Linked DNA regions of Homo sapiens: region 1 is linked to region 2. Evidence: fine-mapped expression QTL. Tissue or cell type: whole blood. Region 2 holds a variant in brackets; the other region holds the start of a gene. All regions are shown on one strand. Distances are between the middles of the regions.

Region 1 (8,184 bases), 30 kb before region 2:
AAATCCCAAGTCTGGCCAGACTGCTCTTTCTTGCTCAAACACCTCTGATGACTGCCCACTGACTAAGTCCTTGACAAGTGCCCTTCCTTTCTATCTTAGGCCTGCCTCCTCAGATCCACTGTCTCCTATTAGACCTCACTTCACCCCAGGCTCAAGCCACATCAAGAAGCTGTCTGTTGTTCCCCAGGAACATGCCATTCACTCTGCTCTTCCTGTGACTATACCTAGAACACCTCCATCTCTGTTGTTCACCATAAGAATTAACACTTCTTAGGGCCCACCTTAGGCCAGGTGCGGTGGCTCACACCTGTAATCCCAGCATTTGAGAGGCCTGGCCAACATGGTGGACGGATTGCTTGAGCTCAGGAGCTCAACATCAGCCTGGGCAACATGGTGAAACCCCATCTCTACTAAAAATAGAAAAAAATAGCTAGGCGTGGTGGCACATGCCTGTGCCCCAGCTCCTCAGGGGGCTGAGGCGAAAGGATCTCTTGAGCCTGGGAAGTTGAGGCAGCAGTGAACTCTGATCATGCCACTGTACTTTCAGCCTCGATGACAGAGTGAAACCCTGTCTCAAAAAAAAAGCCCCAACTTAGATTTAGCCTGAAAGTTCCTTTCAGTAACGCCCTTTCTTCTGCTATCCACACTCCATGTATGGCAGAATTAACCATTCTTCTTTCTAGGCTCTCATAACATTAGTATGGATAGAGGGAAGCCAGAAGAAAATGATTTAAAAAAAGAAAAAAAAAAACAGTCTTATAACATTCTGGACATCCTTTTCTTAAGGGATATCCAAATTATTGGAACCTTTTTTTTCCCATATTTTTTCACTCCCAAAGGGCAGACAAGAGAAAGCCATTTCCCTGATTTTTTTATACTACCCTAACACATCCCATGCTTAGCCTGCTCTAGAGAAGGGACTCATTAAACCTCTAGTTAATAGAACTGAATTGGGCAAGTCACAACTTCTGAGACCGTTTCTTCATTTGCAACATGCTGAGATTCTCAAGATTCTGTATGAGGTTGTTGCGGGGATTAAATGGATAAATAAGGGGTAATGTGTACTAGAAGCCAGAGAGCACTGTATGGGTACATGGCAATATTGTTCCTTTAGCAGAGAAGCCACTTTATCTTCTTTTGTAACACACAGAACGAAGGACTACATGTTTAAAAGGCAGTTGGAGGACTAACAAGCTTCCACTGCACTGTGAGCCAAGGATTTGGCAAAAAGCACAAAATAAAACACATGGATATGTTGTCTACACTCCAAGCCAGTCATATTCATTTCATACTATATCCTATTGACGTCTAGAATCCAGTTGGACTTTCTAGGGATTATTATCTTTGAATCTGTGTCATTAGCTATAAATCTTAACACCATATAAAAGGCTATGCCTAGAAGGAATAGGCCCTATTAATCAGAATTCCTCCCTTGCATAAACATTGGCGCTAGAGTCCATAAGAAATTAAAGTCAAAAGAGGGAATATGGAGCGGGGCCGGGGCTGGGCGTGGTGGCTCACGCCTGTTATCCCAGCACTTTGGGAGGCCAAGGTAAGCAGATCACCTGAGGTCAGGAGATCGAAGCCAGACTGCCCAACATGGCAAAAACCTGTCTCTACTAAAAATACAAAAATTCGGCCGGGCACGGTGACTCACGCCTGTAATCCCAGCACTTCGGGAGGCGGAGGCGGGCAGATCATGAGGTCAGGAGATGGAGACCATCCTGGCTAACACGGTGAAACCCCGTCTCTACTAAAACAATACAAAAAAAAAAATTAGCTGGGCGTAGTGGCGGGTACCTGTAGTCCCAGCTACTTGGGAGGCTGAGGCAGGAGAATGGCGTGAACTCAGGAGGCGGAGCTTGCAGTGAGCCGAGATCGCGCCACTGCACTCCAGCCTGGGCGAGAGTGCGAGACTCCATCTCAAAAAAAAAAAAAAAAAAAAAATTACCCGGACGTGGTGGTAGGCGCCTGTAATCCCAGCTACTCGGGAGGCTGAGGCAGGAGAATCAATTGAACCCGGGAGGCAGAGGTTGCAGTGAGCCAAGATCACAACATTGCACTCCAGCCTGGGCAACAAGAGCGAAACCCTGTCTCGAAAGGAAAAAAAAAAAAAAAAAAAAAAGGAAGGGGGGTCGGGAATCAAAACGTCCTAATTCTAAAATGTGAATAAAACCTCGAGAAAATAGTTACTGTCTTAACACAGACCTATTGCAGTAACATTTGAATCTCAGTTATTCAGTGCACTCCTTTGTTTCAGTTGCAGAAACCAAATAAAGATTAATCAGACTACATGGTAAGAAAAGTAATTCTCAGAAGATCAACTACTTTTAGGTGAATTACCTCCCAAGAAGATGTTCTTTTTGACTGGATTTTTTTTCCTGGTATCAGGCATTCTATAAGAAGTATTCTATTGGCTGGAGTTCTATACACCATCTGTCCTATATGCAGATTTTTACATTTTATATACTATAAAATAAAATAATTCAAAAGGCTTTTAAAAAACAAACAAACAAAAAAACAGAGGTCCTAAGGATTTAAAAATGTCTTACCTCTTTGGGGAAAAACGGTCCAAGTATAGAATAGCACATCATGGAACCTAAGTTCACCGAAGCTGCCGATATCAGTACAAAAACCTGTTCTCTCGAAAGCCACCCGGGGGTCTCTCCTGCACTTCCTGCAGGATCATCACCTTGAATGCAAACATGCAGCAATTAGGCATATAATTGAGACTACTGATTAAAGTACACAAATGTGATTTCTGTGCACATATGTTGCACTCTGAAGATATCATTTGCTAAGCTTAGGGCTATTTTGAATATAGCACATTTGATCAAATGGAACACAATCCTTGTACATTACTGCCGTTTTGAAAACGTACTGCTTTCGGCTGGGCACGGTGGCTCACGCCTGTAATCCCAGAACTTTGGGAGGCCGAGGCAGGCGGATCACGAGGTCAGGAGATCGAGACCATCCTGGCTAACACGGTGAAACCCCGTCTCTACTAAAAATACAAAAAATTAGCCGGGCGTGGTGGCGGGCCCCTGTATCCCAGCTACTCGGGAGGCTGAGGCAGGAGAATGGCGTGAACCCGGGAGGCGGAGCTTGCAGTGAGCCAAGATCGCACCACTGCACTCCAGCCTGGGCTACAGAGAGAGACTCCGTCTCAAAAAAGCAAAACAAAACAAACAAACAAAAACAAAAACAAAAACAAAAAACAAAGATTTCTAAGGCAGTATTGAAGTCAAATGAAGTGTAAGTAGGAGAAAACAAGCTAAATCATTCAGCTGGTGAATTAATATTTACAGCGGTATGCTTCTGGATAGACAAGTCCCACAAATTCATAAATAAATACTTTTTTTTTACCCTAATTACTGGTCTTTTACATCAGTTAATTTAACACTTATTTCCAGGGCTAAATTGTCATTTAAAAACACGAAATCAATTACTGAGTTCCAAATATCCAAGCAAATCCATCAGCCATTTATAAATTAAATTGTTTTTAGGAAAAACTTAAGAGAAATACATTTGCTTTGCTCTATTTGTCAGAGGTTGCCATTGCAGTCCAGAAGGAAAAAAAAAATCAGTGCAACATGAGGAAGTCTTACGAATCTTTGTAAAATGTTTGTAGTAGATGAGAAAGGGAAATGAAAGTTAAAAAGAAAGGCAACAACAATGGGTACTTGAAAGGTAACGTTTTACATTTGCCTAATGGCATACTTATTTGAATGCATTAAACACACAGTACTTAAAAAGCAGAGGTATAGGTTAGAAAGTCATTAGAAACCGTGACACATATCCAATCCTGGAACTTTACCCCGTCCAGAGAGAAAAGAAACGCTGGCCCGAACCCCACGATCAGGCCCCAGCCTTTTCCAATCTCTCGGAAACAGATCAAGCTATAAGCAATTCAATCGTTGCTAAAGAGACACGCCGGAAGCCGCCGCTGGTCTCCGGGCTCCCGGCCACGCAATTCATGGTCACCTCCTGGTGCGCGTGGTCCCTCCAGGTCACCCAGCGCCTCCATCCCCGGTGCGTGGACTCCGGCGCCCCAGCTCCCGGCTTCAAGCCACGTCCTTGGACTCGACCTCCAAGGAGCCACTGGCACTCTGGCGGGCGGCCGCTGCTCAGCTGGAACCTGGCATCCCCGACTCCCTGCAGGCAGCGATCCGCCCGGCCCGGAGCTCCCCAAAGCCTTCCAGGACTCTGGGTCCCCGGGAGGAGGCCGGGGGCGGGGCAGGGGTGGAGCAAGGCTCCTTTTTTTTTTGTTTTGCGCCCCCCCCCCGCCTCATTATCTTAATCCACCACCTCAGCTGCTATATCATGGTGTCCTTTTTCATTCTGTGACAGAGAGTGAAAAAAGATGAGTCTATATTCCATACAGCTGTACCCCCCTCAATCTTAAAATAAGTTCAATTTATTCCTACGAAACGAAAGAAAGGAAGCTTATGTAGACACAGAAAAGGCAGGGAGTACCTCAACTGAAAGACACAAAAGTGAATTAGAAAATTAGGTTATACAGGAACTTTGAAAGAGTGAATTATTTTTCACAGTGGGTAAATGCGGTAGTGTTCGTAATTACTGAAGCCAGACACTATTGAACCGGAAATGAATTAACCTATGTGAAGCACCTGGAGTCGAAAAATATTTGCAAGAATACTAATGAATATCGAGGAAGCATGGCGAAGTGGCTAGGAGTGCGACCTCTGGAGGCAGGTGCCAGGGATTCAAGCCAGGGCACTTGCTGGCAGTGTGTAACTTTGGATGACAAGGTCAGTTTCTCTACCTGTACAACTGAGATTATAATGTTTATCTCGTAGGGCGGCTGTGAGCATTGGCGATAAAGTGTGTTAGTAGTTAGCACATGAACATGATGGCTGCTACCTTACTCTCACACTCACAGTTTTCTTGCATAAAAAATAGGTTTCACTTATTTTCACCGTATTTACTATTTGGGAAGTGTTAAAGCTCGAGGACTGGCTGGACACGGTGGCTCATGCCTGTAATCCCAGCAGTTTGGGAGGCCGAGGTGGGCAGCTCACCTGAGGTCAGGAGTTCTAGACCAGCCCGGCCAACATGGTGAAACCCTGTCTCTACTATAAAAATACAAAAAAATCAGCCAGGCGTGGTGGCAGGCACCTGTAATCCCAGCTACTAGGGAGGCTGAGGCAGGAGAATCGTTTGAACCTGGGAGGCGGAGGTTACAGTGAGCCAAGATCCAAAAGAATTGTGTGAGGGTAGCTTTATCGACTGAGAATCTGCCTCAGATCCACTGTACAAGGTCAGTTCCAGTACACAGTATGGCTGATAGTAAGTTTGTAATTACTGTGCCACCTCATTCCAGCCTGGGTGAAAAAGCGAAACTCTGTCTCAAATAAATAAATAAAGTTTAAGGACTGGGAAATTCTTGTTTTGAAGCCAAAGCAAAACAAAAGACTGAGTTACCACTTTGTGCCAGGCATTATGAATTTAAAGAGGAATGAGCCCCATCCAGACTCTGCCCTCAAGTAGCACACCTTCTAGCAGATGAAATTCACACTAATTAATAATCTACTATAATGCAATCGGTTGTATACAAACATATTGGAAGAACCATTTACTTTGGCAAATGGGTCCTGGATGACTTCCTGAGGAAGTGATGTTACCTTGGTTCTTGAAGGTTATGTAAAAACTCCCCAGTGAGGGCCGGGCGCGGTGGCTCACGCCTGTAATCCCAGCACTTTGGGAGGCCGAGGTGGGCGGGTCACGAGGTCAGAAGTTCGAGACCTGCCTGACCAACACGGTGAAACCCCGTCTCTACAAAAATACAAAAATTAGCTGGGCATGATGGCACCCAGCTACTCAGGAGACTGAGGCAGGAGAATCGCTTGAACCTGGGACTCGGAGGTTGCAGTGAGCAGAGATCATGCCATTGCACTCCAGCCTGGGCAACCGAGCGAGACTCCATCTCAAAAAAAAAAAAAAAAAAATTCCCCAGTGGGCAAGTTGTAAAGGAGAACCTAGAGAACCACTCTGAACAGAAAGTTCCACTCTAAGCCAGGTGCTGTGGCTCACGCCTGTAATCCTAGCACTTTGGGAGGCCGAGGCAGGCAAATCACCTGAGGTCGAGAGTTTGAGACCAGGCTGACCAACATGGAGAAACCCTGTCTCTACTAAAAATACAAAATTAGCTGGGCATGGTGGCGCATGCCTGTAGTCCCAGCTACTCGGGAAGCTGAGGCAGGAGAATCGCTTGAACCTAGGAGGCAGAGGTTGTGGTGAGCCAAGACAGCACCATTGTGCTCCAGCCTGGGCAACAAGAGTGAAACTCCATCTCAAAAAAAAAAAAAAAAAAAAAAAAAGAAAAGAAAAGAAAGTTCCAATCTAGCAAAGTTTCCCTAAAGTAGCCTTATGAAATCTTTATGATCTAACCCCTGACAGCTTCTCCAATCTCATTTAACTCTATGCTTTCTCTTCAATCTAACATCAATCTGTAGAGGGAAATTTTCTTGAATGATTTCTTTGATGATTACATTTCCTCTTTTATTTTCTTTCTGGACTGCACTTTATGTGAATGTTGGGTCACCCAAACTGGTCCTTTTACTTATTTCTCTTTTTCTTCTCTCTTTTATTTTATTTTATTTTTTTTAGACAGGGTCTCACTCTGTTTCCCAAGCTACCATGACATATAATGGCTCACTGCAACCTCAAATTCCTGAGCTCAACTGATCCTCCCACCTCAGCCTCCCGAGTAGGTGGGACTATAGGCCTGTGCCACCACACCTGGCTAGTTATTATTTTTTCTTTTTTTTTCCTCCATGTTATAGGAAGTATCCCTAACTGTATCTTGCCATCTGAATTTTTGCCAACTGAATCTTGCCAACTGTATCTTGCCAATTGAATGTTTCATTTCTGTTGCCATCTATTTCCTTGTATCTCCATTCTCATTCCTCTCCCCATTTGCAATAATTCTTGCATGTTTAATGCAAATCTTGTTCTTTATGTTCTCAAAAAAATCTATGTTCTTATGTGTCCATCTACTTTTAATTTACATAAAGTCTATTCATATCCCTATCCTCCGCTCCTCTTGTAATCTCTACCTCTCATTCTCCCTTCAGATAATCAGTTTTATAATCAAATATATTATTGTGTTAGTTTTCTGGGGCTGCTGTACAAATCAACACAAATTTGATAGCTTAAAACAAGGTCCTCAAAGCCAGAAGTTCAACATCAGTTTCACTGAGCCAAAATCAAGGTGTCAGCAGGATCATGTTCCCTCTAGAAGCTCTAGGGAAGAGTCTGTTTCTTGCCCCTTGAAGCTTCTAGTGACTATTGGCATTTTGTGCCACATCACTGTAGTCTCTGTTTCTGTGATCACTGTGCCTCTTCTTTTCTGTGTGTAATCTTCGTTTGCCAGTCTCTTGTAAGGATATTTTGAATGAATTTAGGGCCCACCTGGATAATCCAGGATGACCTCTTCATCTCAAGTTCTCCAATTTAGTCACATCTGCACAGACCCTTTTTTTCATATAAGGTAACATTTACAGGTTCCAGGGATTAGGATGTGGACGTATCTTTGGAATCCATTATCAGCCTACCACAATTATCTATTCATAGTTTGATATGCTCATTTAGACATTCATACACATATGGAATATTTGTTTCTTTACAAACTAAAATGGAGTAATATGGTCTTTGTTTAAATGCCACCTCCTCAGAGAAATTCATTCTTTTTTATTATTTATTTATTTAATAATAGAGATGAGGTTTCACCATGTTGCCCAGGCTGGTGTCAATCTCCTGGACTCAAGCAATCCATCTGCCCTGGTTCCCCAAAGTGCTGGGATTACTGCCGTAAGCCACCATACCTGGCCAAGAAATTCATTCATTTTTTTTTTTTTTTTTTTTTTTGAGATGGAGTTTCACTCTTGTTGCCCAGGCTGGAGCACAATAGTGCTATCTTGGCTCACCACAACCTCCACCTCCTAGGTTCAAGCGATTCTCTTGCCTCAGCTTCCTGAGTAGCTGGGACTACAGGCATGCGCCACCATGCCCAGTTAATTTTGTATTTTTAGTAGAGACAGGGTTTCTCCATGTTGGTCAGCCTGGTCTCAAACTCTCAACCTCAGGTGATCCTCCCGCCTCGGCCTCCCAAAGTGCTGGGATTACAGGCGTGATCCACCGCGCCCGGCTAAGAAGTTCATT
Region 2 (8,184 bases):
GGTATACTTTGGAGATTAAATTCTCCACACCATAGCTCCATGGAAGCATCATCTATGTTCTGAGCCTTTATCTCCCGTGCCTAGGACAGTGCGTGGTGTAGTAGGAACTCAGATATTTCAATTGTTTGTTTGTGGGCTTTCTTTTCAGTCTTAAACTCCTCAGCCTTTTTTCACCCTCTATTTTTTAAGGTTCCTTTTCCTCTGGCAACGAAAGTAAGTCTCTAGGTTGGGCTGCTTTGAGTCGAGTGTGGAGCCAAGCTGTCTCAACTTCCTTTCTCTCCAGCTCCACTCTAGGGAGCAGGGCATAGAAACATATCCTATCACAATATGGAGTACATGGCTCTAAGAAGCTGAAAAAATACGTTTAAAGGCCATTGTGAGACCTGGGAACAGTAAAAAGCATGTGAATTCAGAGAAACTATTTTTACATTGCAATAAGTTCTTTTTTGAAGCTTATTTATCGAGACATATGCCAACAGCACGGAATTATATGAGTGATGTGAATTAAACCTTACACAAATGTAGTATTTGTCTTTTTATTTTTCCTTCTCTCAACTACCCCCAACTAAAATTTACAAATGGATATAAAAATCCTGTTTGTACTTGGTTGGCTCGTTAGAGAAATACCGAGTCAAAGGTCTGTGATATTTCACAGTGCTGCCCCCAGGTGAAAAGAAGCAAAATGCACATTAAAAAAAAATAAATATGAGATCCATAAGGGGAAAATAAAATATTAGCATATAAAATGCTACAAATTAAAAAGCCTGCCTTCTCCTGTAGATTTGAAGCTGGATAAACTTGATGGATTCTAGGAGTCAGCAGATGTTTTGCTAAATGGGTACATGTTGTGTCTTGCAGGGAGGTACTTAGCCCCACGAGGGTCGTAACGTGATGCAGCTATGCCACTCTTTCAGGAGGAAATACACATATAATTTAAGAAGAAATTAAAACCTTTTCTACATTTCCCCACAAGCTTCATTTTGAAATAAAATTATCCTTTTCAAAATATTATATTCCAAATTTCTATCATGTGAAGACTCTAGAAAAGTTTACTCTAAAATAATGAAAATGATAACATAATGTGAACGATGCTAAAGTGCAAAAGCAGAATTCAGAGTTGTATGTGAAGAGGAAATGATATACAATAAATCTGTTAGATTTTTTAGTAGCATCATCAAGGCATAAAAGGCGGACTTGTCATATTAACTTTGTTGTTGCCTAGTGTTGTCTCGTGAAGTGAGTCTCATTCAAAGTATTTTGGGTTGCACTGCTGCCTTCTGGAAATGCTCGGTATAGAATACAGGACAGATGAAGTTTAACAGTCACTTTGGTTTGACACTACTGTGTTGGGTTGCAGTAAAAATAAAACCGATAAGAAGTGAGCTGGTCTTCAAATAAACTTCTATATTGCAGTAAAACTGCGAAGGTGTTTCTCCTGTCATAGCAATGGGCAACAACACGACCTTTTGTGAGTCAGAAACCTGCCTGGCCAATGAATCCAATACATCCCAGTACGGGACACTTTTAAAGTCCGTGTTCAAAGTTTATTTGCAGCAAATGGAGGTAATGCTTTAAAAGCAGAAGTATTAGGCTGGGTGCAGTGGCTCATGCCTGTAATCCCAGCACTTTGGGAGGCTGAGGCGGTGGGCAGATCACCTGAGGTCAGGAGTTCAAGACCAGCCTGGCCAGCATGATTAAACCCTGTGTCTACTAAAAATACAAAAATTAGCCAGGCACGGTGGCACATGCCTGTATCCCAGCTATTCAGGAGGCTGAGGTGGGAGGATCACTTGAACCTGACAGGCAGAGGTTGCACTGCAGCCTGGGTGACAGAATGAGACTCCATCTCCAAAAAAAAAAAAAAAAAAAAGCTGTATTTCTTGCTGGTGTTGGGGAGGAGGCAGTGGGAAAAAGAGACAGAGAAAGTGAGGGAGGGATGGAGAGGGAGGGAGACAGAGGGAGAGAAAAATGTTCAGGTCACTATAAATTAGTACAGAGGATTCTTGTTATTTTTTTTGCCCCACGCTGGTGATTTTCTCAAGTTAAAAAATGAAAACAAAATGCCAGCATTCACTTTTTATTTTGGAAATTCAGCTTGATGCAATCGTTAGTTGAAAATAAATATAAATAGGCCGGGTGCGGTGGCTCATGCCTGTAATCCTAGCACTTTGGGAGGCTGAAGCGGATGGATCACGAGGTCAAGAGATCGAGACCATCTTGGCCAACATGGTGAAACCCCATCTTTAATAAAAAGACAAAAATTAGCTAGGCGTGGTGGCGGGTGCCTGTAGTCCCAGCTACTCAGGAGACTGAGGCAGGAGAATCACTTGAACCCGGGAGGCGGAGGTTGCAGTGAGCCGAGATTGTGCCACTGCACTCCAGCCTGGCCACAGAGCGAGACTCTGTTTCGAAAAAAAAAAAAAGAAAATGTAAATAAACTGAATATTATCTGACTGATTCCACTTTCACTGCATTGGATAGAACTGAGTAACTGTTTTCTCTGGAGATCACAGAAAGTCTCAATTGAAATAGCATTTTATTGAAGTGAAAAGAACTTACAATCATTGTCAGTTCACGGATTTGTACTTGTGCTGAAAATCTTTAAGGCAGCAAATAAAATGTTCCTCTACCTGTGCACTTTAACTCTATTCTCCTACTAAGACATTCTAATTTGAAAATTAGGGCCGGGCGCGGTGGCTCACGCCTGTAATCCCAGCACTTTGGGAGGCAGAGGCGGGCGGATCACGAGGTCAGGAGATCGAGACCATCCTGGTTAACACGATGAAACCCCGTCTCTACTAAAAATACAAAAAAATTAGCCGGGCATGATGGTGGGCGCCTCTAGTCCCAGCTATTCCGGAGGCTGAGGCAGGAGAATGGCGTGAACCCGGGAGGCGGAGCTTGCAGTGAGCCAAGATCGCGCCACGGCACTCCAGCCTGGGTGACAGAGCGAGACTCCGTCTCAAAAAAAAAAAAAAAAAAAGCAATATATTTAATAATATTTATATTGCCTTATCTAAATTGGAAGACAAACAAAAAATAATATATGTATATTATTTTATTTATTTGTTTTTTCTTTTGAGATGGAGTCTTGCTCTGTCACCCGGGCTGGAATTCAGTGGCATGATCTCAGCTCACTGCAGCCTCCACCTCCCAGGTTCAAGCGATTCTCCTGCCTCAGCCTCCCGAGTAGCTGGGATTACAGGCATAAGCCACCACACCCAGCTAATTTTTGCATTTTTAGTAGAGACGGGGTTTCACCATATTGGCTAGGCTGGTCTCAAACTCCTGACCTCAGGTGATGCACCCACTTTGGCCTCTCAAAGTGCTGAAATTATAGGTGTGAGCCACCGTGCCTGGCCCCAACATATAAATAATATGTAAATAATAACAAAACTCAGTAGAGTTGAGTGGAAGATCATGTAAGCCAGCTCCTTTTAAC[C/T]TTGTTCTGTGATTCCAGAATTCTATAGACTCTTTGATTTCTACTTCAGTGACTTGATAATAATAGTTAAATAATTGTGCAAATAAATAATGGGGATTTATTTTATAATAACATCTTGTTATCTTAGGGGATTCCCAAATTGCTTCATTTTTTATTTTAGTCTTTTGAAGAGAGTCTACCATGGTGGAAGGACTCTTACATAATACAAGGGTTTATTTAAGACTAACCATTTAATATAAAACAAGAAGGTATATTTATGTTTATGATGATCATTTCCCAAAGTTAGCTTATTGTTAAAAGATGCAAAATTCAGGGAATTAAAGCAAACAACCCAAACTATTATAGTATTCTTCTTAATGACATAAGTGATCTTCTTTAATACTGTCACCAAAGGTAAATAAATATTAATGACAATTGTGATTTTCCTGAGTGTCAGCAGCCACCTTGTCTCTATTATCATTATTGGTTTTGTTATTTTCTAGAAGTAATTATATGGCCAGACCAAAATGTGACCTTCCTACTTTCTTTCCTGTGTTTCTGGAGAACATGCTTTCTCTTGCCTCTAGAGAATTTAGGCCTGATGTGACAATATTTTTCCACTGCAGATTCTACTGGAATTAGAGTCTGAGGTTTTTCTGTTTTTTGTTTGTTTGTTTGTTTTTTTCTTGAGACGGAGTTTCACTCTGCCGCCCAGGCTGGAGTTCAGTGTTGCTATCACGGCTCACTGCAACCTCTGCCCCCCGAGTTCAAGCAATTCTCCTGCCTCAGCCTCCCAAGCAGCTGGGACTACAGGCGTGCACCACCATGCCCAGCTAATTTTTTTGTATTTTTAATAAAGACGGGGTTTCACCATGTTGATCAGGCTGGTCTCGAACTCCTGACCTCAGGTAATCTGCCTGCCTTGGCCTTCCAAAGTGCTGGGATTACAGGTGTGAGCCACTGCGCCTGGCCGAGTCTGAGTTTTTAAGATGGAAGAGATTTGAGAAATGGTCTAGTTTGATTCCTTCATTTTCCAAATGAGAAGATAGAACCCCAAGTTCCAGGACATGACCCAAGAAGCCTTTGAACATTGGGTAAACTGACTGATTATAGGATTTGCCATTTTGTCGAATATTAGAATTGTTTGTATTTAATATAAGTAGAAGGATTATTATTATTATTATTTTTAGACAGAGTCTTGCTCTGTCGCCAGGCTGGGGTGCAGTGGCGTGATCTTGGCTTGCTGCAACCTCCACCTCCCAGGTTCAAGTGATTCCCCTGCCTCAGCCTCCCAAGTAGCTGGGACTACGGGCACACACCACCACACCCAGCTAGGTTTTTGTATTTTAGTAGAGACAGGGTTTCACCATGTTAGCCAGGATGGTCTTGATCTCCTGACCTCGTGATCCACCCGCCTTGGCCTCCCAAAGTGCTGGGATTACAGGCGTGAGCCACCGTGCCCAGCCCTGAAGAATTATATTTTATAAATTGGTAGGTAGCTTCCACAAAAGGCATGTAGAGATTTGGAAGAAAACTGTTTATACAAAGCTAAAACTCAAATGTACAAACATAGTATTCCATAAGCCATTCATTTGCAATGCTCTGCACTTCTGAGGTTTGCTGTGCAAAAACTGTGCAATATTTTCCTGATCTCTACTTATTTCGTACTATCCAGACCAACAACAGTGGTTCAGCATGGTGAATTCTCCAGAAAGAGGGATCTACAACACTGAGTCTTGTCAAGCCTTCAGTAGGGGAGCAACACAGGTGAATTAATAAGGCCAAGGAGACACGTTTAAAGAAAAGGGAAGAGAAGGGGAGCTATTTGCCCAGAAAACAGTGATTTGAAGAAAACCAGTCTGGAAGTGTATGATGAGGGTACATTTTATAAAAGATTACAGCAGCTGCTTTGCCTTGCCATGAAATAAACAAATAAGAATTAATTTTTAGAAGCGGTTATAATAACTTTAAATGAGGAGTGTTGCTACCTATAATTGATTGTAAGGGGAATTGGGCTTTTAAATATAATACTGGGTTAAGTACACATTCTTCTGAGACCCTGTCAGCAGAATGCTGATGTTTGTAATTGGAAAAGAGAATGTCTCTTAAGGATCTCTTTAACTAGTCAGCCTAAAACACAGATTCTCATCCTCAACTAGAATGCTATTCCTATTCACAAAAACCTGGGGAACATGATCACATTAATGCCCAAGAGATTTATAGCAAGAATAAGAGCAAAAGAAAATCTATGTATTTTTGAAGACATGGACTTCCCTAGTGGATATGTTTTCAGATTCTAAGAGTTAGAGGTAAAAATAAATTTTTAAAGTTTATTTTTTTAAAGTTACTTTATTATTTGTATCTACTTTGGTAAAATTCCAAAATAAGACAGTGATTTCTACTGTTTTGGTTAACTTTTGCCTTCCTCATACTCTCTGTGAGTATTCTAAATTTGAGACTGTTGGTGATAAATCAATTTCCTGAGAACACTTTAGCTAATATTAAAACTTAATATATATGGTTATTATTTTTAAAGTTTACTTTTTTCATGTTTACATTGTAAAAAATAAATGACTGAAATTTAGGTAACATGAGGAGAGCAATATTCTGAAAAATGAGGTGAAGTACCAATTTAATGTTTAGATAAGGACCAAAATTTCTTTAGAATAACTTTTATTTAAAGACATATCAAATTTAAGACATTATTATGACATTGTCAATTTGAATAAGATTGGTTTTTAATCTATGGCTAGAGAAAATTTATAAAAGAGCCAACAGTCTCTAGTTTGTAGTTTTATCCAATTTTACTTTTCATTCCTTTCGAGGGTAATTTCATTACATTCTATCCAGCAAACAGGAGATGGCAGCATTACTTCAGCCGTTCAAAAAGACACTCAATCCCTTCTGAAAAGAGAAGGCTGGGAGCTGATGGAGAGTAGAGATTTAGCAGCAGGTGCTACAATGTACATAGAACAGAGGAATGTATGTTTCCTATGTAGGGTACATAGGAAACAAATGTGAAATAAAACTGTTTAATGCCTCTGAATGCTGCAGATTTTTACGCATATTTTCCAGTGTAACAGGCCCTTCCCCTGTAAAAGTGAAATGGGTCAGATGTTGAGATTTTTATGGGATTTAGAAAGCTGTGCATGCATAACAAAGAGCTTGGCTCTACAGCTGTAGGATTTTTAATCTCTGTTTTTTTATGGAGTAGTAATTTTCTAAGAACACTAGACACTCATTTTCTTTATTTCTTCTCAAATTTCTAAGCATACATTAATAATAATATGGAACTTGGGTCTCAGGTCAAAAAAATACATACATGATCCAAACTACTGATATCTGCTACAACTGTTAATGCAGGAGATAAAATATTAGATTGGTAAATCCATGGACCTCAAGGCCTCAGCTCGTTTTTCATGTCAATTGGATACCTCTCCTTGAGGAAGCAACTTCTAAGGAACACAGATCTGTAATATACAAACTGGGTTTATTTTGTTGAATTTTTTTATATATCTGTAAATAAATTTACTTATGTTTTGTTTGTGAAAAATTTGGAATAGTCTTTCTTAGCTTCTTTCAGGAAATCTAACCAGCCACTTGGAAAATCAAAAATTTTATTAACTTTAAGTAAAAGAAGAGAAATAAAGGCCTAAATAGAAGTTTCCTTGATGCTGATATTAGACCTTTAACCCTGGTTAAGGAAGAAAAGATTCAAAGAATTATTCAAAAATTCAAAGAAAAGATTTAAAAATTGTCTCCATTCTTTGAATGGAGACTTGCCTTCCAGCCTTTATCTTCATTTTAAATTCTATATTCTTAGGAGCCTTGTTTAGGAGATATTTCTCCAAACCCTATTTTTAAAATGTGGATTTTTGTTGTTCATTTTAACTAACATCTGAGCTTTAATTTCCTCATATCTGCACATAATCTGCTTCAGGCTATGATTGCTTTTTTTTTTCTCTTTTGAGAAAGCAACCTTTCCATGTTGGCATAAATTTGACTTGTATGTACTAAGCAGAACATTTTATTAATATGCTAACCATTTTTCCATTAAAATCCAAGGCTATCACATACATAAATATAGCTTTTATGGGTTCACCAGAGATTCAAACGTGAACCTGAAATTTAGTCTACCACTTGGCAGCTTATGTCAACTGGCAGGGCTACTATATCAGAAATAATGACTTGAGTGTGAGTTTGAATAAATGAAAACCATAGATGTTTAATCATAATGCAGTCAGAGGTTTATCCTGGGCTCCATAAATAGTGGGGAGGGCAAAACTGATCTTGAAACATTTTTCACTTTTCTTTTTCAATATGTTCTGCCTTCTCATTAAGTAATTGTGAACAAGGACACTGGTACTAATTTTTAACCCTCTTTGACATGCTAAGGGCTTTAAAATGTGATATTTGACAGAGTCTTGGTCTATTTGTAGGGCCAACCACTGAGCATCAGATTGGAGATTCTTATGGTGTCCATACTAAGGCCTTTGAAAAGTGATAACTCAGAGAGGTGAATGCAAGGGCTTTTAAGATGTCTGTGTCTGTACCTGTATCTGTATCTCTCTCTCTTTCTCTCTCTCATTTTGTGGTTGGTCAACATACACTGGCTTTATAGTCAGGGGAGCTTGGATGTGAATCCTGCTTTGGCAGTTACTGATTGTGAAACAACAGAGAAGTCATTTCACTTATATGAACCTCATGTTTTTTTCTCTAAAATAGTTATAATAATACCTGTCTCATAACGTTTTTGTGAGGAT

The links. PIP is the estimated chance that this variant, and not a neighbour inherited with it, causes the effect.
Region 1: it holds the start of SLC18B1, and the variant in region 2 is fine-mapped to the expression of SLC18B1 in whole blood (TOPMed, PIP above 0.99).

Annotation. Positions count from the first base shown.
Region 1 is chr6:132,794,430-132,802,613 of GRCh38, forward strand. It overlaps SLC18B1 (solute carrier family 18 member B1), which reads right to left and starts at 4,208. Exons shown (of 14, transcript NM_052831.3): 1 at 3,985-4,208; 2 at 2,553-2,692. The coding sequence starts at 4,027. RefSeq lists an enhancer at 2,494-2,994 and a silencer at 4,226-4,275.
Region 2 is chr6:132,824,136-132,832,319 of GRCh38, forward strand. No RefSeq gene overlaps it. Among named protein-coding and RNA genes, the nearest start is that of SNORA33, 11 kb to the left of the region's middle. The variant C/T (reference allele first, on the strand shown) is at 3,443.